Linked DNA regions of Homo sapiens: region 1 is linked to region 2. A link means that fine-mapping ties the variant in region 2 to the expression of a gene that starts in the linked region. Tissue or cell type: nasal epithelium. Region 2 holds a variant in brackets; the other region holds the start of a gene. All regions are shown on one strand. Distances are from middle to middle.

Evidence for each region. PIP is the estimated chance that this variant, and not a neighbour inherited with it, causes the effect.
Region 1: it holds the start of VAV3, and the variant in region 2 is fine-mapped to the expression of VAV3 in nasal epithelium (TOPMed, PIP above 0.99).

The regions. Positions count from the first base shown.
Region 1 is chr1:107,964,188-107,966,803 of GRCh38, reverse strand. VAV3 (vav guanine nucleotide exchange factor 3) reads left to right here and starts at 1,624. Exons shown (of 27, transcript NM_006113.5): 1 at 1,624-2,138. The coding sequence starts at 1,935. VAV3-AS1 (VAV3 antisense RNA 1) reads right to left here and starts at 2,361. Exons shown (of 3, transcript NR_046653.1): 1 at 2,300-2,361. RefSeq lists enhancers at 838-907, 843-1,137, 2,484-2,613.
Region 2 is chr1:107,692,016-107,694,515 of GRCh38, reverse strand. The region is part of intron 17 of VAV3 (vav guanine nucleotide exchange factor 3); the gene reads left to right. Among named protein-coding and RNA genes, the nearest start is that of MIR7852, 200 kb to the left of the region's middle. The variant C/A (reference allele first, on the strand shown) is at 1,419.

The DNA.
Region 1 (2,616 bases), 270 kb before region 2:
GTCGTGCTATTGATGGAATCCGCATTGAACACAAGAGGAAATTGCTAGGGAAGGATGCGTGTGAGGAAAGGAAATCCTCAGGCTGATTTATTGTTCAGCGCTGAGTGTAAACAGTGTGCTATCCTTGTCACAGCCAAACGAAAAAGGACGCAATCACTATCCTGAACAGATCATTCTTTTAAAAATAATATTTTGGCCTGCTTATAAAGCATGGTTCGTAATAAAAAATTTGGGCTACAGAAATATAATACAATTAAATTATCCAAACTCCCATCTTTTTGTTTGTTTGTTTGTTTGTTTTTTGAGACAGAGTCTGGCTCTGTCGTCCAGGCTGGAGTGCAGTGGCTGGATCTCAGCTCACCGCAACCTCCGCCTCATGGGTTCAAGCGATTCTCCTACCTCAGCCTCCCGAGCAGCTGGGACTACAGGTGCGTGCCACCACGCCCGGCCAATTTTTTGTATTTTTAGTAGAGACGGGTTTTCACCGTGTTAGCCAGGATGGTCTCGATCTCCTGACCTCGTGATCCGCCCGCCTCGGCCTCCCAAAGTGCTGGGATTACAGGCGTGAGCCACCGCGCCCGGCCTATTTTCTAATTTTAAGTGAATGCATCTCAAAAGGGTGACGAAGGACCACATTCCTATCGAACAGCAATAATTCACTGTGGCAATATCTTGCCACAAATAATTTAAACATTAATTGTGGTTTTGAGGGGCAGTGTGCAGTGGGAGTAAAAGGGGTAGGGTTTAGAGTCTCCAAAAGATTTACTTAAGAAACACGAATGCACTGCTTGTGCACTGCGCAAAAGTTCTGGGGTCAAGTTCCAACTTTCACTAAGGATCCCAGAACAGCCCGGCAGGAGCTGCCCAGGGCTAACGCGCTTTGCTCTCAAACCCGGCCGCCAGTCGCCGACGCATGCGCAGTCTAGCACCGTGGCACAGGCCTTTCTCAAGCAGGTTTTTGTGGGGTCAGCAAAAGGGCCAGAACAGCAACGGCAAACAGTTCCGAGCCTGACAGTGCAGGGGCAAACCAGCTCCAAGTGAAAATCACCTCGCGAGGAAATAGGCTCAGGGATCGGGGCGGTTTCCGCAGGCGTCTCCACACACGCACTCTCACTCACTTTGAGGGTGCCAAAACACCACTAGGGGCAACTAGGAGGAATAGGCTGAGGAATCAGCTATAGAGAATGGAGGGGATAGAGCTGCAAGGGGCGAGGGGGCGACGATCTCTAAAACTTTCAGCGCCGTGCTCTACTGATGCTCTAGGCACTTTTTTCATTGCTCTGGGGAGTCTGGGTGCCCCAATTAATCCGTCGCTCCTTTGAGCATTTGTTGTTTAGGGGGTCCTGGGGGACCCCATCGTATTACAGTATTCAGCCACACTCCCCGCAAAGCCGGGAAGCCGCCCCGAGAGAAGACCCCAGGACGCCGGGGGCTGCGTGAGCCCCGCAAGGCTGCAGGCGGGGGCGCGGGATCCCCTTTCTGGCCGCCGCCCCCCTCCGCCGGCCCCTCCCCCGCGCCCCGCCCTCGGCCACAGACCCCAGCCCCGGCCGCCGGCGCGCTCCCACCCGCGCGTCTGGGGACTTGCGGACCGCAGCGAGACCGGCCGGCGTGCTGGGCATGCTCAGTGGCGGGCCGGGCGCTGGAGTCGGAAGCCTGTGCGCGGCAGCCGCCGCCGAGCCGGCCGGGGCGCACGGAGAGCGCGCGGGACTCGCTGCAGCGGCGGCCGGGTCGCGGCGCACCCGGGCCGGGACCGGAGCCGAGCCTAGCGCGGCGCCCGCGACCCGTCAGCCGCGGCTCCTGCTCCCTCGATCCCGCGCGGGGAAAGGGCCGGCGGCTGTTGGCGTCGGCGGGGCGCGGAGGAACCGCGGCGGCGGCGGCGGCGGCCGCATCCTTGCCGCCCGCCCCGGCCCAGCCGCGTCCCGGAGCCGTCGGGCATGGAGCCGTGGAAGCAGTGCGCGCAGTGGCTCATCCATTGCAAGGTGCTGCCCACCAACCACCGGGTGACCTGGGACTCGGCTCAGGTGTTCGACCTTGCGCAGACCCTCCGCGATGGAGTCCTGCTCTGCCAGCTGCTTAACAACCTCCGGGCGCACTCCATCAACCTGAAGGAGATCAACCTGAGGCCGCAGATGTCCCAGGTGAGGAGGCCGGCACGGGCGCCCCGCCTCCAGCCGGCAGCTCCCATTAATCATGCGGCTAATTTCTTTGTGTAAATGCAAACGTCTAGGTGCGCTGAGCTTGCCCTGCTTCCCAGCCTTCTGCTTTGGGACCACTTCGGCACCACTTTGGCGTTTCCTACCTTGGCTTGAAATGGTTTAGCTCCTCAAGCTGAATGCGAAAGCTTTGCGTCCGGAGATGGTGTGAGGATTTCGTAAAGGCTTTCTGTGAGGCGGGAAAGAAATAAGTTGTCTTAGGGTGCCCTTCACCTACTCTGCGTGTGTGTGGCGCGACAAAGGGAATTTGATCAAGCTCTTCTATAATAACGAAGGGGAGGGACGAAACGAGGTGATGGGGTAATTTGCCTTTAGTCTCTTCTTTTGCTTTGCGTCTTGTACTCATGTTTTCCTAAAAGAGGAACCATGACATACATGAGGACTCGAGGAAGTGAAGGGCGTT
Region 2 (2,500 bases):
GCAAGGAAAGGCTCATGGCCTAAGCATCGATTGTTAGGCCTTTGAGAGGAGACACCTGGGTTAGATTAATAAGTAGCAAGAAAATGAAGCAATTCACAGAATGCTTGATGACAAAAATGCCTCCCTTTCTGAAAAAATCTACTGCCTGATCCAGTCGATCCAATTGTTAGAGTTCTCACTTGGCTCTTACTATTTCCTCTGCCTGAAACATGCTCCCTTTTCTCCGAACAGTTCCAAGGACCACCCTTTCATTGCTTTCTGTCCAAACTCTTTGCCAATCATTAACCGTACCTTGACCATCCAATGGTAGCCTGAATTAAATTGTTCTCTAATTATTTCTATGTAGGCTTTATGCATTTGCCAAGGTTAGGCTGTTCTGTGGTAACTAACAAACCCCCAGGTCCCATTGGCTTTAAGATATAAAAGTTTATTTCTCACACATGCACTGTTTACTGTGAGTTCAGTGGCCCTTCAGAGTAGCTCCCTTCTAATCAGGGAACCCAGATCAGTTTGATCTTGTGACTTTGCCAGCTTGACACATGGGTTCTAGGGTTGCTGACTTACAGACCCATAGCCTGGAAGTAAGCAGTGCCATTTTTCATCAAGTCCATTGGCTGAAACTAGTCACATGGCTTCAACCTAACTGCAAGGGAAGCTGGGCAATGTAATGAAACACATGGACTATTTGGTGTCTGTCTCTACCCCTGTTAGATTATATGCTCCTTTGCTGTTCGGAATATGTTTCTCATCTTTTGTGTCCACCCCTTAGTACCAAGTTCAGAGGAGTGGCACTTAATATCATGTTGTTGTTGCTTTTTCCCATAATAGGACTATTTCAACCAGAATATAATTTTTAATGATGTTATAGGATGTGGCTAAATATTATTAAGCATTTGAAGTATCTCTTAACACTTCTTTTTGTTCAAGTTAGCCCTTTTTGGATGTTGTCTTCCTTGGGTTGGAAAACCTTCTATATTTCATGCTCTATATCCCTTATATTAATCTAGTCTTCATTCACCCTGGAAATGATAATTACTTGACAAAAATGCAGTGCATTTCTGAATGAAGCACCTCATTTGTATTAATATGTGATTATGACAGATTATTAACTCAAGTGCATTTGAAGTATGAAAAAAAGATGTGTTAAGTTTATTTTGTTAATAAGACAAACTATGCAACTTGGAAACAAATTTGAATGTTGGATGATTAGTTTATGTCTTAACATTTGAGGATGTGCATGGATATAAAGGGCAGGCAGTTCCACTCTCCTTTTCCCTGAACTTGAGTTGACTTCTTCACATTCACTATGGCAACCTCAATGATCAACACATACAGGAGCTCTGAAGTGCATGCCAAAACTTTCCAACGTTAATAATGAATAGGTATGAACTCCACTATGCAAGCTTCTCTGAACGAGT[C/A]ACTGCAAAGCTAATGTAATTTTAGGGTGTCGTTTCCTTCTCACAGTACACCACCGCGAAGGTCTAATCCCAGACAGCAATCTTTATGGACATTTGCTTTTCCCCCCACTACACTACATGACTAAGCCCCTTTGGTCTCCACTTCTTACTCTGACATTGACCAGTATAGCTTGCTTTGCATCCTCTCAGTTTAAACAAAGTAACATTGGAAGGGAAATACTGTTGGAGCAAACGACTTTGGTATAATGCATCTTTTCCTTTAGTGAGAATGCAAGCCTCAGCTGCCCTAATATTTAACTGAAGCAGATCCCCATTTGCTTATCTGTTTAATTGCACTTTTATCTAGGCCAGCTGCTGCTCCTGCTGCTGCTATAGCCACTCCTAATTGGAAGGACGTTGCTGTGGTATCCTAGTGGTTTAAAACTGAGAGACTGCTACCTAGAACCTGCACCCACATTGGTATCTGAACCGGGCTCCTTTATAAATCATATTTTACATTTTAACATAAAAGATAAGCTTTCAGGATACAATTTTATTTCAGCCTTCTACTGCTAGGCATTTTATCACAGTACTTTTACGTGAGCTGAAGATTGACCATTGATTTCATAACCAAAAATGACTTTAGTTCTGCATAATATTACTTAAAACTCATAAAGACAATTTTATACTTGAGTAGTTATTATTCCTTCCATCTATTTGGGTCAGTTTAATGGTACATTAATAATTATTAATGTGAATTGGAATCTATTATATGGTTGTATTCCTATTAGAGCCCCTGAAAAGACTTGAAATCAAAGCCTCTTTCTAAGTATTATTTATAGTTTATGGTTTGCTTTATTTTCTTTTTAAAACATTGCTGTATATCTGAGTAGTGAACATAGCATTTGTGAAAGTGAACTTTCTCCAAAATTTGATCAGTCCAAGCATTTTTTAGTTGTAATGTCTCACAGAAATAGCACTTTAGTCACGATGATAGGGTACCTTCAAAAACTGTACTGGTAATTACTTTTCTGTGGCCCCTGTTGAGATAGGCAGTCTTACTGGACATTGATGTGTTTAGTCTGAATAGAACTTCAGATAAG